Homo sapiens: one gene and its partners. The protein of the gene in region 4 interacts with the protein of the main gene of each other region in a pairwise test. Each region holds a gene or a part of one and is shown on either strand. Other genes may lie near its edges. The genes, in order: PON2, RPS6KA3, ANKS1B and HTR2A.

Region 1 (7,028 bases), on a different chromosome or scaffold from region 4:
CTGTTTAACTCCATTGCCTAATTCCAATGGAAAAAATGTATCTATCTGTAGCCTTCTTTGGAATATTTTCCAGATCTTCTCCCCGTCATCATTTCTATAGCCACTACTGCAGGAAGGTTTTATCATCGTGTATCCCCTCTTCGGTGTGATTATGTCAGGAGCAGTCAATGCTAGAGAAATTTTTGCTCCTCTAATTTAATAATAATAACTAACATACATTAGGTACACCAAGTACCAGGCTCCTTGTAAATACCCTGCATACAATATCTCATATGATTATCTTTTATTTTAGAGTGAAGACTATTGGAGGCTTTGGAAAAGTTAAGCAATTGCTCAAGGTCACAAACTGGGAAGCTGGGACTCAAAGCCTTTGCTCTGACTTAAAGGCAAACAGAAAATATTCAAGTTAGAATTTAATGAATTTCCTCTCTCAGAAACATCCCCTGATTCCTCTGTAAAGCCACTTCACTTGTAAATTCAATTGTGGTCAATTCCATATGTTGTCTTTTTCCCCTGAAGTTTTGCTTCCAAGCCTCTCACCAACATCTTTACCAATGAATATCCTGCACTTTTCTTTAAAACCTCTTTCAAAACCTTTTCTGTCTTTTTCGTATTTCAACTTATTTTATTTCAAAACAAATTTATTAAATCTTTACTTTTTTTATTCTAGTGATATACATTAATTTCAATATTGCATTCCAGGTGATATTTATGTAAATATGTGAAAACTTAATACTGTGGGCTGATTTGGCACTGTTTGTCACTCTTATTGTGTGCTTGACTCTCTCCCTCCCCTTCATCGGTTCTCTCTCTTTAAACTTTTTATTATGGGAAATAGACACAAATCAAGAGAATGGTGTGGTGAGCCCTTATATACCCAGTACCCACCTTCAACAGTTATCAGCTCATGGCCAGTCTTGTTTCCCTTGCAGTCCTACCACTTATCCTCATCCTGTGTTATTTTAAAGCAAATCTGAGGCATCATATTATCCCTAAATATATTTATACAAACCACAATATCATTACTACACTAAAAATTCACAATAATTCCTCAATATCATCAAATATCTAGTTAGTGTTCAAATAGCCAATCATGTTTAAAAGGTGTAGCTTTAAAAAATTACAGTTTGTTTAATTCAGAGTCCAGGTAAGGTCCCACACATTTCAATTGATTGATGTGCCTCTTATTTCTTTAAGTCTACCCCGTGTCAGTCCATTATTGCCTGTGGGCAGGAGGACTTAGCTCCCTGGGTGCACTCAGAGCTTTTGGTAGCCAACACTCAGGGAAGTTGGGGGGGATCTGGGGAGGGTATCCACTGCATCCACTGCTCAGGGGAATTAGGGGGAGAATTTCCAGGCACAAGGAACAGCATGAGCAAAAAAACACATGAATGGCACAGCGTAGCATGACAAACCCTTTCTTTAGAAAGTCTCCTAGCTTAGCACATTTAATTTCCATCTCTTCTTATTACTTTAGCAATTATCTGTGTCAGAGGTGGCCAAGTGTTCACCAGCATCCATGTTCCCCTTCTTCCTTTTTAGCCTTTTTAGCAATAGGCACGTAGCAACACAGCTATAGATAACATTGCCCACCCTTTCTGGCTGACAGATGTGGCCATATGTCTAAGTTTGGGTCAATAGGATGTGAGAATACAATATATATGCAACTACTGGGTAGAAAAAAAAATCTACATAAATTTTCTTTCAACCCCTTCCTGCTGGGAAATGGCAACAAGCAGAGTTCTAGTCTTAGATGAAGACAGCTGTGTTGCTTCATCAGCATTTGCCCCTGAATGACCATATGGAACACAGTCACCTAACTACCCTAGGCCATTCACTTACCTTAAGACTGATGAGAGAAAAATAAAAATAAACATCTCTTTTCTAAGTGACTATAATTTTATAACAGCAACGCATCCTTTACTATACCCAATAGAGCATCCCATATGTAACATATTATTTCCTACTTTTCTGGTTCACTCATCAAGTATATACATTAGTCACCCTGGGAAAAGACACTATATTGGAAAGTGAATTTGCAAAAGTTGCTTAACCTCCTTGAGCCTCAGGTACTTATCTGCTAGAGAAAGAAAAGACATATCTATATCTCACAGTGGTTTTTTGTTTTGTTTTGTTTTCCTTTTCTCCCATCAGTAGACTGTAAAGTACTTGATTATAAGGGCCACAAACTTTAATGCTTTTTTCCCCTCAATCTCCCAAGCAGCAGTTATTGTAAAGGTCTTGACTGCCAAGTGCATAAAATTGTTAGTTATCTTGAGAAAGACAGTCCACTCAAATTTTGAAGGCCAGACATTTAGAAAATCAGATTTTTTAACTTTTAAGCCTCAAATAAAGTTAACTAGCTCTTGACATTTTAATATGCAGATGTTAATCTGCCAAATCTTGGGTGTATAAAAGCTTAGTTTCTGTCTATAAGATAGATCGGGAAGGAATTTTTGAAAAGGACTAAATAGTGAACTTATTTTCTGACCCACAGAAGGCACACATCCTGTATGATATGTAGTCAATAACTATGATTTATTAAAGCAGACACAATATGATATGATATATATAAAGCACCCAAAAGTTGCACATAGTTCACTTCCAGTGATGGTGACTGAAGCACGGTAGTGTGTGCATATGTATGTGTGTGTTGATGGGAATCAAGGGCAAGGGGGAAGGAAGGTTCACCTCTTAGAGGGATTAGTTGGCCTCAAGTGCATAGCTACTACTGTTTTCAAAACAGAAAATAAGAAACAGCCCTCTCTATCATAAAAAGTCACTTTTGCCTGTATAGAAATGTGTGTCCAGCACATTGTTATTTCTTCTTATCAAAGACCTGTGAATAAGCAACTGTTGTTAAAGATATATAACCAAAAGTTATTATTAACCATTATGCATCACTAACATAGCATTCGACAAACGTTCATATGGTGTGTGCTAACCACAGGGCAAAAGCAAAAAAGAAAAAAAAAAGGACAATTCTAATTAGATCTAAAAATGTATCCCAAATGTGCTTCTAATCACTCATCCTCTCCGCTCTGTTGCCTTTTGAAGTGCCTCAGAGGCATTTAACACTTCACAAGAGGGGCCATAGGTGACATATTTCCTCATTCTTTCCAATTCCAGACAGCAGCTCACACACATCACAACATAAAGGTCACAAACATAGACAGATGCCTGTTCAGAATACAAATGTTGCTGGGCTTGTTTTTCTCTGAGGAGCGCTCCATCCCAGTGAGTTGTAAGAGGAATGCACTTGGCAGTCTGTCATGTAACATGGCTGGTTGTGCCCTATTGTCTACTCTGAGACTTGTATTCACAGAAGGTGGGCTTCCCAGGGCCAAGGGCTGTTTAATAATGTGACAATTATTAACTCAGCAGCAAAAGTAACCTAAGAGATCACTGGCCCAAACTCCCACCCTTGCCCAACATCTTTTACTAATGCCATCTGGCTTTTGCTGAGTGACCAGTTCTGAGAGGGCTCTTCTTGATTGCAGCTGGAAGGCAAGATGAAGCTGCTAAGTTACTTGGGACTCTTGAACTGTCTGCATGATCCAGCACAGATGTAGTCAATCTGCTATTTGATATGAGTTTGCCTCCTCCCACTTAGTGTTTGGGCAATTGAAAGAAGGAAGGGAAATTCCAGGACAGCCAACCAGTCTAGGGGAGGGGAGGTAGAACTGGGGAAATACAAAAGTATCAATGAAAAAAAGGAGAAAGAACACATAGGAAACAGATGCCTAAGGAATGAGAGGCAGATCAACCTGAGGAAGCTGATTTAAAAGAAGAAAAAAAGAAAGGGAGGCAAGCAAGGTATTTGTAGAGAAACTCTGAAGGTGGCACTGTCAACTGATGGTTTATTTTTACTAAAAGAGTGCTGAGAACTCTGTCTGGAGTGAATGTGGTTACAACTATGAGGTACTGAGTTTATTACTGTTGCCAAATTGAGAGCAACTTAGCAATGACTGTCAAAACTCTAAACACATATTCTAAGGGAACAACAATCCCATTGTTAAGGACATATTCTACAGACACACAAACTCAACAGCAATGATGTTCACTGATTTGTTCATAGTTGCAAAAAACTGTAACAACCCAAATGTACATTAAAAGGGGAATGGTTAAATAAATCATGGAATGTGAAAATATTAAAAAGAACAAAGTAACTATATATGCTGATGTGGAAAGCTGCTCACACTGTTTTAGGAATGAAGAAGGTTGTGAAATATTTACACTAAAATTCTATTTGTGAAAAAAAGAGTCAATATATTTGTTTGCAAATGCACTGAAACTATCAGGAAAGATAAAAAAGGGAGCTTTATCTTTGGGGTTATTTCTGTTGGGGGTGATGAAGAGTTTGATGAGAGATTTTTATTTTTATTTACTTTCCATTTTATATCTTTCTATATTGTTTGCACATACACTGTTTATATGAACTTTGCACAAAAAATACTGTGCAGTTGTGAAGAAAAGGTAACATTATGTACAAACATAAGTTTCCAAAACCTAGTATTAAGTACAAAAAGCTAGTTTTGAAATATTATGCATAATTTGACCTCACTTATGTTTTTAAAAATTATGTACAGGAGTATTCATAAAAAGAAAAAGATGGAAGGACACTCAAAACTTGTTTAACAATGTTACCTATTCAGAGAAGAGAACATTTCCATGTAACCCGAGTTTTAATTTCTAAAGAGTAAAACAAAATATTAAATTGTCTCTCCTACCTCTAGAGAAGGATGTTGTTGTAAAGGACTAGAAGTGACTCAATGACAGTCTAGTTATTTCCACACTGTGGCTCTCAGAGTAAGATTATAAATAAATGGTCCCAGGCTTTTTAAAGTCTAAAAACCATTAGTCTAATCACAAACTCATCATTATAGGTGACAAATACAAAAACCAACTTTGCCTAAGGTTACATTGTGGCAGAATAGAACTAGAAACTAGGTGTTTTGACTGCTAATTCTTTTTGTTTCTAATCATACCATGAACCATATCTAAGGAAAGCCAATATTGGCTGGGCTCAGTGCCTCATGCCTGCAATCCCAGCACTTTGGGAGACCAAGCTGGGAGGATTGCTTGAGGCCAGGAGTTCAAGACCAGCCTGGACAACATAACAAGACCCTGTCTCTACAAAAATAAAAAACTAGCCATGAGTGGGGGCATGTGCCTGTAGTCTCAGCTACCTGGGAGGACGAGGCGGGAGGATCGCTTGAGCCCAGGATATCAGGGCTGCAGTGAGCCAAGATTGCGCTACTGCATTCTGGCCTGGGTGACAAAGTGAGGCCACCTCTCAAAAAAAAAAAAAAAAAAAATTAAAATTTAAAAAAAAGGAAAGCCAATATTTATTGTTCATTGATAATCTAACTACTAGTCTATTATGTACTAGGGACATGTACTTAGTAGATGATAAAGGGTAAAAGACAGCAAGACACAGACTCTACCTTGGAGAAAAACTGCAAACACACCAGAGAGACCCTCAGTGCTGGAGAAGAATCTGGACAGATCCCTCCTTATCTATAGCAAAATTGGGGCTTGCTCTTAGGAACCCCTACTCAAAGACTCAGACTCCACAATACATCCTACATAAAGTCAAGGGAAGAGGGAGACTCCCCCTCTGCAGTCATAGCTTAGAAGATAAAATAAAAACAAGTTTTTACAATACATATTGTGAAGTGCCGGTACATCAGTCCGTTCTCAGGCTGCTAATAAAGACATACCTGAGACCGGGTAATTTATAAAGGAAAGAGGTTTAATTGACTCACTGTTCCGTGTGGTTGGGGAGGCTTCAGGAAACTTACAATCTTGGTGGAAGGGGAAGAAAACACACCCTTCTTCACATGGCGGCAGCAAGGAGAAGTGCCGAGCAAAAGGGGGAAAAGCCCTTATAAAACCATCAGATCTCATGAGAACTCACTCACTATCACGAGAACAGCAGCACAGGGTAACCACCTCATGATTCAATGACCTCTCACTGGGTCCCTCCCACAACACGTGGGGATTATGGGAACTACAATTCAAGATGAGATTCGGGTGGGGACACAACCAAACCATATTGGTCAGTTACGTGTTAGCCATAAGATCAGATCCTAGTTATAGAGTAGTGAGCAGGGTAAATGCTGTCACTGCCTACATAAAGCTTCCTTCACTAGCTGACCACAAGGCTCACAGAACACAGACTGCAGCGGCCATACCTGACAAACAATACAGACGCAACAAAAATAGTTCAGAGAAGTCACAAAACAAGCAAGAAATCAAATGCTAAACATAGAATTACACACAAAAAAGAATAATTTACAGTGAGGGTAGGAAAGAAGAATAAATACAGGGTTCATCAGATCAAGAGGTTGACCAAAGAGGTTTTTGTTGATCTAATGTGATTTATCCACTGAAAAGCAGTAATTTCATGCTAAAATGCCATTAATGAGTGTTTTAATGTTAATGGCCAAAAAATGCAATGTGCCCAACAAGCATTTTCATATACATACCAATTCCTTTAATCAGGTGGCAGTGTGGAAGGTCTACAGATTCTACTTCTCTGGAGGCTTTAAGTCGATTTCTGTTACAAAGAAAAAAAAACAAAAAACAAAAAACTATTTGTTTATGTATTCCCTGCTTTGTTTTAGAAAGGGTTTAAAGAGGCTTACAGCAATACATAAAACACAGTTTAAGTCTAAAGCAGATGAAAGAGAAAATAGAAAGACAAGGGTAGGAAAATAAAACTGCACCAGAAATGAAGTTAAAACAAAAATGCCTATTGCAAAGTTCTATATACTGATGTGGGTTATTAAAAAAAAAAAGCCAATAACTCAACAAATAAAACTTATAATGCAAGTTCCTATGCAAATGTAAACACAGCACCATGTCACATTTCTCAGTGTTGGTGTTGTGGGAAAAGAGTTCCAGATGTAGAACCAGTAGCCCTGTCTTCCTTCTGAAGAGTCAAACGTGAAAAATGACTGTAAGCCTCACACAGAGACTGCAAAGAAGCCAAGAGAAAATGGCATTGCTCAGAGCCTGACACA
Region 2 (6,939 bases), on a different chromosome or scaffold from region 4:
ACAGTAGTGACAAATCTATATGTACAGAGCTGTGAACTTTGGATGTATATGAGGTAGAGATTGTGCCATGAGCCATAGTTAGTCATCTTGCAACTTTTCCAGACTGATGTAACTCTATTTTTTGAACAAATGTTATTTTGTTAAATAAATGCCCATTTAAACTTGTATACAAAGGTTATAATTATAGCAGGAAATTGTTGGGGGCAGAGGAGGTTAAATCTAGTTGTCCCGTCATACATTAGGAATGATTTCTTGGAAACCTCCTTCAGATTTTCTACTGAGGTTTGCTGTTTCGCTCTACTGTAGTTTCAAGTAAGAACTTTCCAATATTTTGGTTCTGACTGGGAGATTTGTTGGGGAGGGTGGGGATCAGTAGGTAACTGAATCAGCCCTTTCTGCTGATTCTGCACTAAGGAAGCCAAAAAGACATTGGAATCTGAAGATATCACTTAACATTATATGACTTGTAGGAATACATAAAAGTCTCGAAAGCCACATATGTAAGTATACATTTATAGTAGCCACATTAAAAAGTTTTTAAAAGGTGAAATTAATTTTAATGAAATATTTTATTTAACCCAATATATCAAAAATATCATTTCAACATGTTGTGAATATAAAAAATTATTAATGAGATACTTTATATTCTTTTTTTTTTTTTTTTACTAAGTCTGAAATCTAGAAAGAACTTCACATTTACAGCACATCTCAACTTTGACCAGCCAACCTCATTTGAAGTGCTCAGTAGCCATGTGTGGCTACTAACCACCGTATTAACCCATGCAGGTCTGGCGATCTGAGGCAGCTATTCTTTGAACAGCTACACTTAGAGTTTTCCTTTGTTAAACAGAGGGGAAAAGTAATCCTGCTTAGGGCAATATCAGCTTCTATGTTCAAGTAACTCTTTTTGCTACCACCTTCAAGAAAAATCCTCCAGCCTCATTTGATTTTTCCAAATTCTCCTAACCAAAGAGAGTGGTTGCACTGCTCTTGGATTTAATAGAAGAAATAAAAGAGAAAAAGTTTATTGTTAACAACAAAAAATCATTTTCTTTGCTTTTGGGGCAAAAGGAAGAATAATGTTCTTCTAAATAAATTCAATCAATTCATAAATACTTATCAAATTGATCCTCTGTGCAAGACATCTGTGGTAGTGGTACTTTAACTGGTTTGTTTGTTTGTTTGTTTGTTTGTTTTTGAGACAGAATTTTGATCTTGTCGCCCAGGCTGGAGTGCAATGGCACGATCTCGGCTCACTGCAACCTCCGTCTCCCGGGTTCAAGCGATTCTCCTGCCTCAGTCTTCCGAGTAGCTGGCATTACGGGTGTGCACTCCCGGCTAATTTTGTATTTTTAGTAGAGACCGGGTTTCACCATGTCGGCCAGGCTAGTCTGGAACTCCTGAGCTCAGGTAATCCGCCCACCTGGGCCTCCCAAAGTGCTGGGATTACAGGGGTGAGCCACCGCACCCGGCCACTTTAACCCATTATTAACAGTTCATGTAATGCTTAATTCACTGAAACGTGACCACCGCTCACATTACTTTTACAGATCAGGTAACTCTGTTTTAAAAGTTATTCCTCTGGTTCTCAAGGTTAACAGAGATGAATAAAAGTTGATACTGAAAATGGCATACAATTTGCTTTATTTTAAAATATTCATTCTTTGCGTGGGGGTAATTAGCACTGAACAGTGTTAGCCACATAACGGTCTCTCTTCAACTATGTATGTTTTTACTAATGCAAGAATGTTAACTGAAATAATTGATCAAAGGGTAGGGGGAGCTAATTTACTTTAAGCCAACCGAATTAACGAACTTCTTTTCGCTATAAGGAGTGGTCATGTGACTCTGCAATGTAAATGAATAAAGCATTTTGTACATAAATGCAAAATAGTACACAACTCCTTATCCTCCAAACTTCTGCAAGCACGTTTTACCGTCGGGAATTACACAGAGAAGGTGCTGCCAAATTAGCTGAGTTTGGGCCCAGGTTGGATTTGCAACACCTGAATATAGCATGTGAAGGGAAGTGACAAAGGCAAGAGCCAAGTGGCCCCATTCGCCTTCTTCCCCAGACCACGTTGAGTCTGCCCAGATGTTGTCCAACCTGAGCGGTCCCCCTGAGTCCAAAGCTTCGGGAGAAGGCGCGCAACGAGGACTTCCTGCCGCCTTCTCAGGCTCCCTAAACAGTTGGAGCCTCCCTAAATGGCCACGAGGTTCCCCGGCCTCGAGCCTGTGCCAAGGGGCGCGCTGGCGAAGGCAGCAGAAAGAGCCCAACACCTGCCTCTCGCAGGCCCAGCGAGAAACCTCGCACCGCCCGCGCAGACCTGGCCGGCTGGGTTTGGGGCTCTAATCTCATCCTCACACCTGCTTAGGGAGGCAGGCGAGGGTTCTCCAGGTGTCTGGGTCCCGGGAGGATGAAAGGAAGCTGTTAATAGGCGTGCGCTGGGAGCGCAGCAGCGGACGCGCCGTGGTCGCTGGGCGTGGGAAGACCGGGATGCCTGGGCCACGGCCTGAGGGTTTGAAGGGACAGGCCGGCTCGGAGATCTCCCTTTGCTTTTTCTCTTCCCCTCGCTGGGCGACTAGCCAGGGGCTGCAGTAGCTTTCCACTCAGCCCTGCGACTTTTACACATTTCTGCCCGGGCGCACTTAGCGCGCAGCGGCTCCTGGCGCAGTGAACACAGGGTCGAGTCCTCTTGGGACGCACCCCGGACGCCCAGGCCTTCCCCCCAAAGCTCTCGCCGTCCTGTGGGGCTCCGTCGCCGTCGGGGCATTGGGTTTCCTTAATCCAGGGCTTCCCCATCTTGGGCAGGAGGAGGAGTCAGAACCCCTCCCCTCCCTCTGTCCCCCTCCTCCTCCTCCTCCGCCCACGGCCAGCCTGATTTTTAAATCTAATCTCTTATTTAAAGTCAACAGAGGAGCAGGAACCCCGCGCTCCTGCCTACAAGATATTTTTAAATAATTCTCCAACCTCTACCGAGAGGGACAGCCTTAAGGAACCTCCCTGTTTTCCCCTCTTGAAGATTTAGGTAGCAGACGTGGGGCGGGGGGCAGCGGTTCCAGGGTCGCAGCTGAAGGCCGAGAGCTCTGCGCACTTGGGGAGGAGAATTTGGGCTGGGGGCGGTGCGGGGGAAGCGACTAATACAAGAGGAATTAATCCCAAATAGCCACAATTTAACAAAAGAGCGTCAACTTGAAAAGACTTGAATCAAACCGGGAGCCGAGCCCCCAGGAGGCTCCTAGGCACGAAGCCTCCCTTGCCTCCGTCGGGGGAGATGGGGGGCAGGTGATTTCCCAGCATGTGACCCTGAAGAGGGAGGGTCTTGGGCCATTACGGGATGCGCCCAGAGACTAGGCGCGTCCGCACGCACGCACCCCCGGAGGAGACAAGCCGAAAAGACACTCCGCACCCCTCCCCGGGTCCTTGGCTCGGGACTGCGCCCCCGGTACTTTGCCCACCTCCCTCCCCAGCTGGGCGGGGACCACTGTTCTCCCTCATTCCCAAGGAGCCTCCGACCTCCTTGGACCCTTGGCGGTGAAAGGCTCCCAGCCTTCGCCCCTCCTGCCTTTCCCATTTCTTTCCCCCGCCTCCCGCCGACGCCCCCAGATCTGTTGGGCTCGCCCTTCCTGAAAGTAGGCGAGGCCCAGAAGCTGAGGTTGGGGCGCAGAAGGAGGGGGGTGGGAAGAGGGAGGAGCGGAGCGCAGCGGCCGGGGGCGTGTCTTCCACTAGCCCAGCCCCTGGGTGCGCGCGGCGGTGGTGGCGGCGGCCGAGCCTCGCTTTGAGAGACAGGTATCGCTTAGGCGCCATGTTGTGAGCGGAAGTGGGGGAGCGCGCGGCGGTCGCTGTTCTGCTGGGAGCGGGCGCGGGAACCGGCGGGGGGGGCGGAGCCGTAGTCCCGGCGGCGGAAGGAGGAGAGGAAGAAAGGGGCGAGACCCGGTGCCCAGCGGAGGCGCGAGGCTCTCGCTCAGCGCGCGGGCGTCTCTGGCCAGGCGCGCGGCTTTCGGGCGGTCGGCGTCGGCGTCGAGCCCTCTCTGGGGCCGCCGCCGCTGCTGCTGCTGCTGCCGCTGCCGCTGCCGCTGCCGCCGCCGCCGCCGCCGCCGCCGCTGCCGTGGGGCTCGGGCGGCGACGGAGCGGGGCCGGCCGTGGGGCGGGCGGGGAGGGAGGAGGCGGTGAAGGCGGCGGGCCGGGGGGGAAGATGCCGCTGGCGCAGCTGGCGGACCCGTGGCAGAAGATGGCTGTGGAGAGCCCGTCCGACAGCGCTGAGGTGAGTGCAGCAGGGCGGCCGGGGCCGGCGCATCTCCTCCTCGCGCCCCCGCCGGCTCGCTTCGCTCCCCGGAGCTGGCCACTCGGCCCGTTCTGATCCCGCTCGCGTCTTTCCCCCGGGCTCAGGGTTTTGGTTTGGGTTGTTGGGGTGGGTCTATTGGCCGGTCTGTCTGTTCCTTCCATCCTCACCCTCACCTCCTTCCCTCGCTCGGGGGGCTGCCAGTGTGGTGGCGCGTGGGGTTTGGAGTGGGCGCTGGGGCTTTGCAAGAAGCCAATTTTAATCAACTTTGCGTGGGGGAAGCGGGAGGCGGAGCGGGGGCCGGCGGGGAGTTGGGAAGTTTGGCCCAGCCGGGTCGGGGGCTTTCCCGGACCTTGGCGACTTTGGGAGATGAGGGAGGGGTAGGGATCGGGTTCACCGGGGAGCAGGGACTCTCGAGTCCAGCCGAGGGAGGGGCTGCTGCGGGGAGACCGGCGCGCGGGGCACGGGCGGCGGCGACCTGTGGGGGTTTCGGGTAGGGGGTGCAGGGTTTTGCCTCCCCCTCGTCTGCCGCAGCGGTTTCTGCTGCTGCAAAGAAGAAAGCGGAAGCCTAAGGTCCCCTACCCCCTCCGTTTCTGAGGTCGCAGAGCTAGACCCCCGTCCCTGTGAGTTTAACTTGAGTTTCCTGTCCATGGAGGTGAGAGGGTGATATTCAAGGAGATCAGCGGCCGCCGTAAAAGGCTTTCTGGTTTTCCTCGCCCGGGATCTGGTGACCGTCCCTGAGTCACCCATCCTAGTGCCCAAAACCCAAACAATATACCCAAACAGGGCAAAACAGAATTTCCCCGGGCGCATCACTACACCGAGCTTTCCTGAACCGCCCCTATCCCAGAACAACTCGGGGTCTGCGAAAATAATCCAGACAAGACCCGTTCCAAGGTATCACCGCTCCTCTCCGGAGTGGAAAATCAATTCCTGATGGTGGCGCGTCTGTGATTCTTCCTTCTTGACTTTTTGCTGCCTTCTCTCCCCGCAGCGGACTTTAGGGGATTACAGGATGATAGGCTGCGTGTGTGTAATAGTTACTGAGTGAGTGACCCCATTTCTGGAAAGCATGACTGAAACGCGGGGGTGGAACGGGGCAGGCTCTGATGAGTGGTGTGCTTGGCGGCAGCCGCTGCCCTGCCGGCCTCCGCAGTGTGAGAAGTAGATAGGGTTACTGGTTACGTCAGTAAAACCGAGGCTCAGTTTAATCTTGAGATGCGGGACACTTGCATTCTCCGGTATAATGGAGAGGGCGGGGGATCAGTTCAAATCGCTTTTCACTTTTTCCCCCAGTCACCTCCGCTGCTGTATAACAATTTTGCTTGTTCTCCTTAACGCACGCAGAGTTGTAATAGTGCTTATGATTGGTGCTTAGTATTTTGCGACTTGGATCATACTTGTAAAACCTGAACTAAATGCTGCTCTTCAATGGAAAAGACATTGATATATGTTGAAAGAAAAGGAAAGAAAGAAAGGAAATCATGTTTTTAAGACTGGCAGAATCACAAGAACTTTATTTAAAATTGTTAACCAGACTAATACTATAAATATTTTATTAAAAAGCCAAATTTATGATGTTTAATAATCCTTTAGATGGGTAGTGTGAAAAACAGTATGCAAGAGCTCGTCATATTTTTCCCCAGAAAATTTTTTGCATTAAATAATATAGCTAAAAGGTTAATAAAATGTTCGCAAAGTACTGAACTTGTGGAAAGAAATTAAATTTGCTTTGAGCCTGACTTTTACATACAAACATTAACAATTGCAACTCAAGATCAGTCCACATTTCTGCTTGGCATGTATCAGTGTGATAGGAAAACAATATCGTTTAGAATTCCACCTTATCCTTTTTCTATCTGGAATGCATTTGGATAAGGAAGGACAAAACATATTTATTTAGCACCAACTGTATGCCAGGTACTGTGCTACATTACTATTTCATTTTATCCTTCCTGTGACCCAGCAGGGTAGGATTATGGTCCCCATTGTTATAGATTAGGAAACCAAATCTCAGAATTTAAAAGGTACAAAGATGATAAATAGTAAATGGCAGAGCCATAATTCAAAGCCAGGTGGATACAATTCATGTGCTTCGTTTTATATCAGGGTAGCTGTTCCAAATCTTTTGTGGAAAAATTCGGGGTATAAATAAGCCAGTAGTTAGAGGTCATCTATTTTCCAGAAACAAATAGAGTATTATAAGAGGTCTCATTTGGTAAAGCCTTGTTATTTCAGTTACTATCATGTTTTCCAGAACTTGACAGATAGGATTCCACAATTTGCTGTTTTCAAAGAATTTTCTTGCTATCCTGGCATAAAGTATGTCAAACAGAGCCAGTGTTGCCAAGATTTATTAAAATTAAATTCTAACAAATTGCCTTTAGATATTTAATTTCCTTTGCTTGTTCAGCTATTTCAAGTAAATTACTTCTGATACAATTTGGAAATATTGAAGACAGTGAGGGAAAGGTTGAAAAGTTCCACTCAGAGGTCTAATATTTTCACTATTATACCGTTTCCTCCCCCAGTAGGTTCCTATCAGATAATTGTATTTTACCAGAGTAACATAGTTTTTTTTAGAGTCATTTACTTGAGTGAATACATCAAAATATTTCTCTCCAGGTTAAAAGATTTCAGGATTGGTCTGTGTAGG
Region 3 (7,028 bases), on a different chromosome or scaffold from region 4:
TACTTTGCACAGATTCATCAGAAGAATCACTATGTATGGCAGGAGTTTGAGGAACAGTGAGGCTCTGTCCTTATAAAAAAAAATCAAAAAATTGGTTGGGCATGGTGGCACATGCTGGTAGTCCCAGCTACTTGGGGTCTAAGACATGAGAATCACTTGACCCTGGGGGGCAATGAGGCTGCAGTAAGCTGTGATTGCACCACAGCACCCCGGCCTGGGTGACAGAGTGAGAACTTGTCTCCAAAAAAATGGAAGAATTACCACCTGTATCCAACATTCTCTTACGAGCCTGGCAAAATCCACTCCATTTGTTCTGCCAGAAGAGGTCGATGGCTTTACTATTTTGGCCTAATGTTTTGTTGCCTCTTTAAATGAAAATACGAAAAGAGCTGCTTCTTTCTAAAAGCTTTACCAATCAATTACAACTTCACTATGAATTAACTGTCAGGTCCCACAAACACTTTTTGGTGGTAAAGAAAGGAAAGAAAAGGCACTGGGTCCATGACGTTAGAGGATAAATTAACATTGAGGTATAAGCATTCCCTTTCCTCTGCAGCCTCACCAGCATCTATTGTCTTTCGACTTTTAAATAACAGCCATTCTGACTAGTGTGAGATGCTATCTCTCACTGTGGTTTTGATTTGCATTTCTCTGATAACTAGTGATGCTGAGCATTTTTTATGTTTGTTGGCCACTTGTATGTCTTCTTTTGAGAAATGTCTGTTCATGTACTTTACTCATTTTTTAATAGAGTTACTTGTTTTTTGCTTGTTGACTTAAGTTCCCTATAGCTTCTGGATATTAGGCCTTTGTCAGATACACAGATTGCAAATATCTTCTCCCATTCTGTAGGTTGTCTGTCAGTGTGGAAGGTAGTACAGAGATTTCTCAAAGAACCTAAAATTGCTACCATTCGACCCAGCAATCCCATTGCTGTGTATATACCCAAAAGAAAATAAATCATTCTACCAAAAAGACACATGCATTCATGTTCATTGCTGTGCTATGCACAATAGCAAAGACATGGAATCAATCTAGATGCCCATCAATGGTAGACTGGACAAGAAAATGTGGTACATATACACCATGGAATACTAGGTAGCCATAAAAAAGAATGAATCCATGTCCTCTGCAGCAACATGGATGGAGCTGGAGGCCATAATCCTAAGAAAATTAACACAGGAACAGAAGACCAAATACCACATGTTCTCACTTATAAGTGGGAGCTAAATATAAAGCATATGTGGACATAAATAAGGGAACGAAAGACACAGTGGACTACTAGAGGGTGGAAGGGGGGTAGATTAAAAAACAGCCTATTAGGTACTATGCTCACTACCTAGGTGACAGGATCCATGCTCCAAACCTCAGTGTCATGCAATATTTCCATGTAACTAATCTACATACATACTTCCTGTATCTAAAATCTGTTGAAAATTTTTTTTAAATATTCAGATAGGCTGGAATCTAGAGATGATGCCAGCTGGCACAAAAACTGGAGCCAGGGTGAACTTGTAGTAATTAGAAAAAAACGCTTTTTTTCTGAGATGTGATTGAGGAGGGTTAAAGGGAATGTGGTGTGGGAAATAGAAACAGGAAAGGAGGTTGGCTGTTTATGCTCACATCCATCAATCAAGATTTGATCCAATTTGATCAAAGAATGGTAACAAGTCTAAGCAGTTTGTTTCAGTTCAGTTAACTAGAAGTGATTAACCACTTCAAATAAAGCTACTCTCATAACACAATAGAATCCAAATAACTCTACTGCACAGCTTAATCAAAGTTCCATTTCACAACTAGATCCATGAAGACATGTCATTTAATAAGAAACATGATTCATAAGAATCAGATTCAGAGATGAACACTCTGGACAGTGCAGTAGAAGAAACAGAGTGTCTTAGTCTATTTTGTGTTCCTATAAGAGAGTACCTGAGACTGGGTAGTTTACAAACAATGTATGTTTTTGTGATTCACATTTCTGGATGCTGGGAAGTAAAAGAGCATGGTACTAGCATTTGCTCAGCATTTGGTGAGGACCTTCTTATTGCATCATCCCATGGCAGAAGGCAGAAGGGCAAGCAAGCATGGGCAACAGAAAGAGGAAATTGGGCTGAACTCATTATTTTGTGAGGAGCCTCCCATGACACCTAACCCACTCCCACAATAATGGCATTAATCCATTCATACATGCAGAGCCCTCATGGCCTAATCACCTCTAAAAGATCTCACCTGTTTGTTTTGTTTTTATTTTGAGTAGGGTCTCACTCTGTCACCTAGGCTGGAGTTCAGGGGCATGATCATTGCTCACTGCAGCCTCAAACTCCTGGGTTCAAGCAATTCTCCCCACCCAGCCTCTCAAGTAGTTGGGGCTACAGACGTGCAATGCCACACCTGGCCATTTTGTTTTGTTTTGTTTTTTATAGAGACAGGGTCTCACTATGTTGCCTAGGCTATTCTTGAACCCCTGGCCTCAAGTGATACTCCCGTCTCAGCCTCCCAAAGCCTGCGATTACAGGTGTGAGCCACCACGTCCAGACAGATCCCATCTCTTCATACTGTCACAATGACAAATAAATTTCAACATGAGTTTTGGAGACAACACTCAAATCATAGCACTGTGGAAAACAAAATTTATCCTTTGGTCATATTTTTTGATCCATCTTCAAATATCAATTAAAAGCCTCATCCAGATTTAACACAAATGTAAAATGTATTTGATATCCTACTGACACCAAAGAAGAAAAGTAGACTCTTAAGAAAAGTTTCTAGATCTGTATTACACAAGAAAATTCAATGAGTTTTCAACTGGCATTGTGCCTCTGCCTGCCCGTACGGCTTACATAACCATGTCCTCACATGCATGAGAAAGAACTGGAAGATAGAAGCGTCTTCTTTGTAAATTCCTTTTTCAAATATAAAATATTCTCCCATATCAACATATGATGAGTAATAAAAACTCACTGTATTTTAATTAACTAACATCATTCTGCAATATGTCCAAAACGGAAACTAAAGACACTCTAAAATGCATTAAGTGTTAAATATCTTCAGGTTCCATAGGTTGAAATTAGTCTTTTCTAACCTTTGTCTGGCATTATAGTCAGCTTCCATTTCTAGTTAAATACTCAGGAATAATGTTCTATCATAGGCTTCTGATAGAATTTTCCAAAATTACCTCAAAATTATTTCAGTATATAACTGAACTAATCAAATTGTTTACTGTCACCTGAAAGGTTAAGTTGCTAAAGTCAGCAGAGGCACTAATAAATATTATATGCTTCTGCCTTAATGTCAGTGAAGACTTGCATCAGCCTTTGTCATCTGTAAGAAATCGAGTCACACAAGAAACTGTGCAATGGATGGACAGGTTGAGTAGTAGTCACTGGCTGGCTGCCCTAGTTCACTGCTACACATCACCCTCAGTGTTTTGAAAAGGGAGCTGAAAACCCTGCTCAGTGGAGAAAGAGGTCAATACCAAAATTCACCCTCCTTTCTCCTTACTCCCCATCATGCAGCTGGCACTGTTCACTCTGGCAGATACAGCTCCCTGAACATAATGGTGCAATCACCACTTCAAACATCATTACTATCTAAAATAGATAACCCACTTGCAACTTGACTATTTTTATAGATATAACATTTTCATGGAGCTTAACTGCTCTATTTGTGATTTATTCCATTTAACCAATGCAGTTTCCCTGAAAGTGAGTTTCTTATATCAGGGTCCCAATAACCACAATTGCCCAAATAGTTGTGAAAATTACAGTACTTCCTAGTTGTCTGTTATCTCCCTGTATTCATCACCAAAATGACATGAGCTGAATCCTAAATCTGAAAAATTATAAGCTCTCTGGTTTTTATGTTTTTGGTGACCAGAAGATTGTTTTGCTCCACTTCTTATTGATCTACTTTTTCACATGGGGATCTTAAGAACTGTATTATTTATTTCTGACAAGAATTTACTAAATACACCTTATATAAAACTCAACTCTTCGAGGCATTAAGAAAATCAAATAAATTGAGGCATTAATAAAGTTTTATCACTGTATTAAAATACAAATAATTCTCTATCCTATACTCAGCAAAAAATTAATTAAATATACATTTTAAATGGAAATTAGTTTTGTTTAGAATAAAAGGTAGTTGTGCCAAAGGAAGAGAGGTTTTTTTTTAAGATTTTGCAGCTGTCTCATAAAAGATATGTTAAATAAACTGAAATTTCACATAAAATGTAGAGGAAGAAAAGGAGGGAGGCAACTCAATTTTAGTGCTCTGATGAGCTCAGATTTCTTTAAGGATGAAAGGGGGTAGTAAGAGGTATAACTGCAAGCAAACACAAAAAAAGAAATATATACTTGTCCAGGAAAAATGCTAATGTCCTTTTTAGCTAAGTTTGAAAAAGAGAAAAGAGGTGTAACAGTTCACTAATTTCACCTTCAGTTCTGGCAGAGTAAAAGGAAAACTGTGGGTAGTTTTAAACCACAAGATAATTTTCTATGATATCTAACAATGCCAAGAATCTAATTCTTCCCAACTTTTATTTTGCTTCTATTTTCCCTATTGAGAACCATTTTCAAATCAGAAGGGATAAACAAATAACTTCAGGAGATTACTGAAGGTCCAAACGAGACCATAAGGGACAGTAAGCTGCTTTAAATAAGTATGCATATCCAGACCCAGAAGAATTAGATGCAAGAGGGTAGAAGGAATTTTTGCCAATACTAGGAATTACCAATGGCTCACTGCCAGAAACAAGCCATAATAAAGTAGACTGATTTTGATGGAATTTAAAGGATAGATCAAAAGAATGCCATACACTTAAATACAGTGTGAATTTAGAAAGGCAGTAGATAAAATACCTCACAATATTCTCACAGGAACAATGGAGAGAAATAGCTGATTGTCATTGCGTGGCTTCAATCCTGGTAGAAATACCATGAGTAAAGACTGTTACTTTTAAATTTATACTAAGTTGAAGAGAGGTGCTTTGGGGATATAGCACAGTGTGTTGAATTTAGGTTATAGAAAACATGCTTATTACATCTCTGGATGATACAGGGGAGAGAAGTTAATACGCTGAAAGACAGACTCAAGAGTCAGAAAGAAGAAAAAAAAGAGTCAAAAAGATATAGAGAAATTACAAATACAACATAAAACAAATCAGATAAAAAGGAACAGGAATAATTTAAGCTCAATCAACACTTTTAAAAGTACCAGAAAGGGGACCTGGCTTCACAGGTCATTGAAAAAAAAAAATACCAGGAAATTTTAATTGACTGTATGTTCAACATGAGCCAACACCATTACATGGCCCAGAAAATCTTGACCTGTAGGTAGGTCTTAGATCAATAATAAAGAGATAATAATTTCATTGTATCATGTTTTAATAGCTGCTATTTTATTTTAATTACATAATACATATTCATTACAGAACACTGAAAATAAAGCCCAACCACAATTCCACCACTCAAAGATGAATACTATCTTCATTTTGGCATCTTATCATTCCAGACTTCTTAAGCACATTATAAGTGTTCAAACAAACTTATTTTTTCTTGCAAAAATAAGATCATACTATAAATGCTTCTTGTAACCTGCTGTCCTTGGTTTTCTTATTCAGCCATAATGTTCTACTCTGGTCAAGGGACATCTACTGCATTTTGTGAATTTCTAGTCACCATACTTTAAGAGGGTCATTGCAAAATTTGAGAATATGTAAAGAAGGAAAGAGAGAGTAGAGAAAAGTATGAAAACTAAGTTCTTAACATCTATGCTGTCTTGCCATATAAAAGGTTAACAGAGATGATAGCTCTTCCATGAAAAATACTTATAAGAAAACAAAAATACATGCATCTAAAGAACTATCCTGCAGATGAATTAGACTGCTTTATATTGACCCATACAGCCAATCTACTACCAATTGCTGAAAGTCACAGGGAAGTGGATTTTAGCTCAATGAAAAGAAAAATTTTAAAATAATTACAGCTGTCAAAAATAGAATGAATCTAGTCATTGGAAGGTTTAACAGGGCTGGAATAACTAACAGGTAAGAAATGTTACAGAGAAAATTTCCGCACTAGGTGAGAAGTTGGAAGAAAGTTCCCTCCTTATTTGACGATTCTATGATTGCTATGGGAAATTTACTCCCAGTCCAATAGGAAGCAAATCTTTAGTCATTAAGGCCTTAAAGAATACAGTCAAGTGCTTTAGAGGTGCATGAAAAATATTAACACTAACGATGAACACCTATATGCTAAATGTTTTGCATTCATTACTTTATACTTCATTTAATCCTTATAATGATCTTATATGATAGGTACTATTATTACTATTTCCACTCTGATAGAATAGTGAGGCTTAGAGAGGTTTTTAAATTTATTCAATGGCATTCTTACATTTGCTGAAAATTGCAGTGCCACCCAAAAGCATACCTGATTCCCCATTACATAGTTACTGTTGAAAGGATAATTTCTTATTACCAGTAGATAACAAGTAATCAGAAGCATCTTCAGAAAAGTTCTTGTCTAGTGAACCCTCAAAGGGCAGTTGTGAGATTTTTTTAATTAGAAAAAAATACCAAAATTTAAGGAATTTCAAATTATTCTTCATAGCAAAAAATGTTCAGATTGGCCTGTCTAAATTGGCCACATACCTTTAAACTTTTGTGAATAAAACAGATTCAATGAATGAGACTTAAAATGTTGTAAAACAAATCTGAATCACAGATTTTCAAATCTTTGCCATTATTAATTAAGTGACCATGGGCAAGTCCTTAATCTTATCTTTTTATTCCTTCATCTGTGAAATGACAATGGACCTCCTAAGGCTGACACAAGAATTGAATGAGATGACACGTGTAAGCACTTAGCATAGGGTCTGACACCATTATTACACAACCCAGGTAATAAAGCAAGCGGGGAAAAAGTGCCAAACATATTCTACAGTTCCTTCTAAAACATTAAGAAATTTCAAAGTGTCATTATGTTTGACGGGGGACACATTTTCCATTATCCTGCCAATAAATTTCT
Region 4 (7,028 bases):
AACCCCTCCGAGGGCCGACATCTGTTCCGAACAGACAGAGCGTGGCTTCCCCCATAAGGCGCTGCAAAGGAAAAGGCTTTCCTTTCGGCTCAAGCTCTTTGCAAATAATACATGTGAATGGCTGTAAATTAGGCTTGTACCTACGCCCTTTACTTGTCTAAATATCCCTTGTGGCATTTTGGTAGAGAGTGTACGTTTGCGTTGGAGTTTGTTCGGCTTTGTGGGTCTGTAATAAGAAAAGTGGACTTTAAAATTTTCCTTCTTACATGCAGGCAGATCTAACTCCGCTGCTTATACTGTGATCAAAACTAATTAAGGTTTACATAACTGCTTAATCCCCCTCCAAAACACAAAACCAGGACACTTTGTTTATGTCCATAAAGCACACTCTAACCTTCCTCATATAGCAGGTGACCTGCAGTATCTCTTACATTGGAATTGTCTGGGGAGCTTGGAAAAAGCTTTGCAAACGCTTTGACATTTGATGTCCACCTCAGCCCACCCTCCAAACATGATTTAATTGGGCTGGGTTTGGCATGGGCATCAGGACCTTCTCTAAAGCTCTCCAGCTGATACTGATGTGCAGCCAGGGGTGAGAGCCACTACCCTAAAGCAGCTATTCACAAAGCGTGGTCCCTGGACCAGCAGCATCAGCATCACCCGGGAGCTTGCTAATTCAGATGCAAATTCTACAGCCTGCTCCCTACTAACTGCATCAGAACCTCTGGACGGAGGTCCAGCAGTGTGTGTTTTAAGAGGTGTGGCAGAGTCTGATGCTCACTAAAGTTTGAGAAATGCCTCCCTAAAACAAAGCTCAGAGCAAGGACACCTTTCTTTATTTTTCTTCACCCTTGTCTTCAGCTCTCCCTACACATACCCCAAATTTGAGTTTGGCACCCAAAGCATTATTAGATCATTATTTTTCATTTTTACAAACAGACATATTCACAATCTGAATTTTTAGTCATTTAGTCATTTGCACTAATGCAATTTATTGCCATCACTGTATGGGACTGGATGGTTATAATAATGACTAAGAGGTGAGACTAACCTTAGGGAAATACAATCCAGAGAAATATGTGACTAAATCCTGACAGTACAGTGTGAGAGGTGCTCCAGAAGAGGAGCCAAAACACAAATTTTGACATAAGCCATTAACAAAAGAAATGTTTTGCCAGGCGTAAGGGGGAAGAAAGAGAACCCCCAAATAGAGACCATCCAAGCTTACCGTGCCACACTCACATAACTCCAGACACTAGAAATTTTCAAACCCTGCATTCATCAGCCAGTGCTAGCTTATCATAGTTAAGTACAGTTGCCAGTGGGCTTTTTTCAAATACTAAAAATATATTGTGTTGCCCTTTGCCACCACCTGTGCCTGTCCCAGAGCTGGAAATTGTCATAGGATAGGGATACATGTGCTCCAGGAGGCACAGGGTTGCTCACTGACACCAACCTTCTGCCTCATAGGGTACCGGTGGCCTCTGCCGAGCAAGCTTTGTGCAGTCTGGATTTACCTGGACGTGCTCTTCTCCACGGCCTCCATCATGCACCTCTGCGCCATCTCGCTGGACCGCTACGTCGCCATCCAGAATCCCATCCACCACAGCCGCTTCAACTCCAGAACTAAGGCATTTCTGAAAATCATTGCTGTTTGGACCATATCAGTAGGTAAGTGGCAACATATTTCAGAGTCTCATTTGAAATGACAGTTCGTGCTTTCTGAAAAGACTTGTTCCATTTTGTTGTACTGAAACCTGACATCCTCAATCTACTGTTTTGGGTGGTGCAAGATATGTTACAACATCATAATTATCAGATTCGCTTCAGGAAAGAAAAATCTGTTTATGTCACTGGCTGACAACATGAATTTGTATTGCTTTGCACAGGCAAAACTATAAACAGTAGAGCCAAAAAGTCAGAAATAACTGTGCTGTTTTCCCTATTTCTTACTTTCAAGTCCACGACTCTAATTCTTGGGTTTCCCAAAGACCTCAACTTTTATAATCACTGAACTTATGATCAACGTAAGGATGCAGACCACTTTGCTAGAGAACATAAAGCCTCTGGGCTCTAGAGAAAGGTACCATGTGCTGTAGCTTGGAGGGAAAAGGTGGGCCAGAGGAAAGTGCCAGGATTTGCTTTGGGGCAAGGCTGCTTTTCAGTCCGACCCAGTGTCCCTATTGACCTTCCTCCTTTTATGATACCACACACCAAAGGATTTCAACTTGCTTCTGTTAGGTTGATTACATATATTCATCTCTCGCCAGTATTGATCTTCTGTCACACACCTAATAGTCAGAAAAGCCCAGGTAATGGAAGCTAAGGGGGCGGGTCTCAGGCAGTGAAGTGAATTGTACCTGTCAACCTCAGCAGCTTGGTTGGTAACCAAAGATTCTCTGACATTCATTTTAAAATCCAAAAGCTTAGCAGGCAGGAGTGTTGCACCTGTTTATGGCCACGCCAGTGCCAGCATCCGCTAATATGAGAGACTATGAGATTCCACCGCTTGAAATCAAGGGCTTGAGTGAGCTTATCCACAGCATTGGAATAATAGTACCAATAATAAGAGCCAACACAATAATACTATATCTTGTGTATTTTAGTTCCCATTGTTTTCTTTGCTGCTAGCAATGGGAACTATTATGCAATTTGAAGAGTAAGTAGCTCCATCTTATAGATGAGGAAAAACTGGGATTCAAAAAGCAAAATGAGCTGTGCAAAGCCCCACAGCCAGTAAGTAGCACAACAAGGATTTTATTGAATTCTGATGGGAACATCTGATGGAAACACTAACAAATCACACTTGTGTCACTTTCAAATGTTTAAAAAGTCTTACCTACTTCCTATTTTAAATTTCCCATTACCGTTTGAGATAGAAGATTCTATGGTGCTTATTTGATAAATGAGGAAACCAGAATACAGAGGTATTGTGGCTTACTGGATCATGTCTCCAACTTGCAGCAGGACTAGGACTCTAAACTTCCAGCACCATGCCCTGTTCTTTCTGTACCTTCCTTAGGAAACAGTTTTTGCTCCTAGAAAATGCTTGTAGTTTCTGGGACTGTGCAAGTTGGACTCATTCTACTAAGAGCAAGAAAGTGAAGGGCCAGTAACCACTCAATCCCAATTACACATAAAATGCCCCTGGGAACATTCTGATTTAATTGCCTAGGGTGAGGCCAGGTGATTCTAAGGGGCAGTCAGAGTTGAAGACCACTGAGACAGGTTTTCAGGGTGGTCAGCGTGATAAGTAGGAGAATCAAGATTAATGCAGAGGGAGCAAATGAAGCTATTTATTTTTACCCTGATACACTGTCCATAGTTTTACCCCAATATACTGTGCCATTGGTGAGACAAATGCTGGGAAGGTCAACCATCTTTTCCTCAGCCACACTGACTCCCCCATCTCATTCAGGCTTCATGATAACACCAGTAGTAAGGTAACAGTTTCTGAGCACTGAGTACGGACCCAGTAGTATACAAAGCCCCTTAAAGAAAATCAGCTTCAGAGAACTCAGTTGCACAGGATGATATCACTTATAATCAGGAGTCAATATGGGTCAATCTGAGTCCAAAGCCCATGCTCTTTCCACTGCACAAAAGATAGCCAGAAAGAGCCAGAGGCAGACTATCACCACAGGAGGCAGGCAGGCTGGAATGATTGTGGTGGTGCCAGGCAGGGATCATTCATCCATCCACTTGGCCAGTCTTTTTGAGATGAAGTTTCGCTCTTGTTGCCCAGGCTGGAGTGCAATGGTGCTATCTTGGCTCACCGCAACCTCCGCCTCCCGCATTCAAGCTATTCTCCTGCCTCAGCCTCCTGAGTAGCTGGGATTACAGGCATGTGCCACCACGCCCGGCTAATTTTGCATTTTTAGTAGAGACAAGGTTTCTCCATGTTGGTCAGGCTAGTCTCGAACTCCCGACCTCAGGTGATCCCCCTACCTTGGCCTCCCAAAGTGCTGGGATTACAGTCATGAGCCACTGCCCCCACATTTGACCAGTCTTGTAATGTGCATCTACTATGTGTTTGGCACTGTATAGACCAAGATGAAAAAGATATGCATTCAAAGATCTCTCACAGTAAGGTAGGAGAAGACAAGGAAACAAAAGAATAAAAAAAAGTTACATAGAATCTATACTAGAAGTCTGAGGTGTGTGCCCTGAGGAGGGGGCAAGCGGAAAATGTAAAAAGGAAAAAGGCAGATCTAATGAAGGACCTACAGAGACTCAGCACAAATATTCTCTTGAGTTTTCTTCTAGTGTTTCTGTTTTGATTATTTTGCTTTGGGTTTAGTTTTTTGTTTGCTTTGTGTGTGGTTTCTTTTAATTTAGATCCTTAGTCTAGCTGGAATTTTAAAATATGATCTAACTTGTTTGCTTCTACTAGTAACTAAAGCTTTTTTTAGACTCAATTGATATTTTCTCTTCAAGCTATTGATATGTTCACTCTCTTGGTAAATTTCTAAATGTAATACTGTCTTACATTCCTGGAATATTGAGTTTGTATGACAAAGTTGGTTGGTTTATGATTCTTACAAGTTTTCTTTTTCTAGCTTTATTAAATGATAGAGAAGTTTCCACTTTCCCTAAGTCTTGAAGTCTTTAAGTAGAAATTACATGTTTTTGAGAGGTTATGTAGAACTTGGTTCCAAATCTCTTCATCCTGGCTCCTTTTTAAATAGTATTTTAAGTTACATTTCTAACTTCTATAGTTATTGCATTTACATTTTCTATACCTTCATGGGTTATTAGCTGCATACAAATTTTAACCTTTACATTGATTCTTTTATCATTAACTGTCCCACTTTATATCTAGTGATGCTTCTTGATTTAAAATCTATTTGATCTTAGTATAGCTACGTTAATTTTCTTTTGATTATCATTTTTGGATATATCTTATTTCATCCTGTTACTTTCAAACCTTTTGTGACTTTAAAGTGTTAGCCTGTAAGCAGCATATAAAGTTTTGTTTTTAACCCCATCTTTGTCTTTTAGTTGGAGTATTTAGTCCTTTTACATATAATGTTAACTCATATTTGGGTTTAAATCTGTTATCTTACAATTTGCTATTTTCTTATTTGTTCTATATTCTAGTTTCTTTTCATTCTTACCTTCTTTTGGACTAATCAAGAATTGTCAATTCATCATTCCCCTTTATGAGCTTGTTATCCATTGTTTTAAATTACTTCAATGATTACAACATTCCTTATTGACCTTAGAGTCTAAAACAAATTATTACTTGTAACACTTCTCGGATAGTGCAAAAACTTTAGAACCTTTTAGCTCCATCTATCCCTGTTGTCTTTTGGGTTTTTCCCTATTTACTAAATGTCTTTTTTAAACCCATAAGACATCATTATAGCCATTCTATTCACTATTTCTCACATATTAACCCCTGTTGCTGTTTATTGCTTTCTTCATTTTCATGATTTTGCCTGGGTTCCTCATTCCTGAAGAATTTCCTCTAGAATATCATGTCGTTTGTTCTGTTTTTCTTATCCTAAGCATCTTTATTTTGCTTTCATTTCAAACACATTTTTGTTCAGTATAGAATTCTAGGTTGACAGTCATCTTTTTTTTTTTTCAGCACTTCATAGGTGGCAAATCCAACATTCCAGGCTTATATTTTTTGTTTGTAAGAATCCAGCTGTCAGTCTTATTTTTATTCCTTCAGAAACATCACCTTGTGCCACGCCCTGCTGCTTCAGAATGTTTTGTCTCTATTTTAGCAACTTTATCATGATGTACTTAGTTGTGAATTAGTTTCTGTTTTTATCCTGCATGGTGTATGTACTGATTCTTAAACTTGTGACTTTGGCCACTTTGACAAAACTCTTGGTCACCATCTTTTCAAATATTGCTTCTGCCCCATTCTCTCTCTTCCTCATGTCTGGGACTCCAATCTCATGTATGCTAAACCTTTTACCTAAGTTCTTTATAACTCAAGCACTTCTACATTTTTTTTTTTGCTTTGTTCTTCAACTTTTAAGTTCAGGGGTACATGTGCAGGATGTGCAGGTTTGTTACATGGGTAAACGTGTGCCATGGTGGTTTGCTGCACAGATCATCCCATTACCCAGGTATTAAGCCCAGCATCCATTAGTTATTCTTCCTGATGCTCTCCCTCCCACCTCCCCCCACCAACAGGCCCCAGTGTGTGTTGATCCCCACCATGTGTCCACGTGTTCTCACGATTCAGCTCCCACATATTAGTGAGAACATGCAGTGTTAAACACTTCTACATTTTGTACATTTTTCTCCTTTTATTTCTTGAGATAGCTTTACTGACTTTTCTTCTTCTGTTACTAGTCCTCTCATCAGCTACTTCTAATCTGCCTAAGACCCATCTCTTGTTTTCTTAATTTTAATTCCTACACTTTTAGTTCTAGATTTTTTCATTTAATTCTTTATAAATTCCAGGTTTTTAGAATAATTCTCCATGTTTTCATCTATTTTCTTAAATATTAATCACAAGTTATCTGGATCTCTCTTTTCTGGGTTGTGGGATTACCTAGGGATTTCTCTTTTCTGAGTTTTGGGGTTGTTTTTCTCTTCATTCTGTCTGTTGATATGTCTGGTAATTTTTTTAATTGAGTACTGTGTATGCCTGATAATTTTTTTTTTTTTTTTTTGAGACAGAGTCTCACTCTGTCGCCCCCGCTGGAGTGCAGTGGCGCGATCTCGGCTCACTGCAAGCTCCACCTCCTGGGTTCACGCCATTCTCCTGCCTCAGCCTCCCAAGTAGCTGGGACTACAGGCGCCCGCCACCACACCCGGCTAAATTTTTTTTTGTATTTTTAGTAGAGATGGGGTTTCACCATGTTAGCCAGGATGGTCTCGATCTACTGACCTCATGATCCGCCCGCCTCGGCATCCCAAAGTGCCGGGATTACAGGCATGAGCCACTGCGCCTGGCCGCCTGGTAATTCTTTTTAATTGAATACTGGACACTGAAATAAAATGTTTGGGTGTTTTGTTGATACTGCCTTTCTCCAGAGTGGAGTCTTTTAGCATTAACAGCA

Evidence for each region.
Region 1: the proteins of HTR2A (region 4) and PON2 interact in a two-hybrid assay, tested with the Homo sapiens proteins (one study listed by IntAct).
Region 2: the proteins of HTR2A (region 4) and RPS6KA3 interact in a two-hybrid assay, tested with the Homo sapiens proteins (one study listed by IntAct).
Region 3: the proteins of HTR2A (region 4) and ANKS1B interact in a two-hybrid assay, tested with the Homo sapiens proteins (one study listed by IntAct).

The regions. Positions count from the first base shown.
Region 1 is NC_000007.14:95,418,024-95,425,051, forward strand, and holds part of PON2 (serum paraoxonase/arylesterase 2), read right to left. Parts: intron 6,563-7,028; coding exon 6,492-6,562; intron 5,666-6,491; exon of another isoform or gene 293-5,665; intron 1-292. UniProt on the Homo sapiens protein: Capable of hydrolyzing lactones and a number of aromatic carboxylic acid esters. Has antioxidant activity. Is not associated with high density lipoprotein.
Region 2 is NC_000023.11:20,263,890-20,270,828, reverse strand, and holds the start of RPS6KA3 (ribosomal protein S6 kinase alpha-3), read left to right. Parts: upstream 1-3,919; 5' UTR 3,920-4,196; coding exon 4,197-4,265; intron 4,266-6,939. UniProt on the Homo sapiens protein: Serine/threonine-protein kinase that acts downstream of ERK (MAPK1/ERK2 and MAPK3/ERK1) signaling and mediates mitogenic and stress-induced activation of the transcription factors CREB1, ETV1/ER81 and NR4A1/NUR77, regulates translation through RPS6 and EIF4B phosphorylation, and mediates cellular proliferation, survival, and differentiation by modulating mTOR signaling and repressing pro-apoptotic function of BAD and DAPK1.
Region 3 is NC_000012.12:99,974,912-99,981,939, forward strand, and holds part of ANKS1B (ankyrin repeat and sterile alpha motif domain-containing protein 1B), read right to left. Parts: intron 1-7,028. UniProt on the Homo sapiens protein: Isoform 2 may participate in the regulation of nucleoplasmic coilin protein interactions in neuronal and transformed cells. Isoform 3 can regulate global protein synthesis by altering nucleolar numbers.
Region 4 is NC_000013.11:46,887,033-46,894,060, reverse strand, and holds part of HTR2A (5-hydroxytryptamine receptor 2A), read left to right. Parts: intron 1-1,470; coding exon 1,471-1,671; intron 1,672-7,028. UniProt on the Homo sapiens protein: G-protein coupled receptor for 5-hydroxytryptamine (serotonin).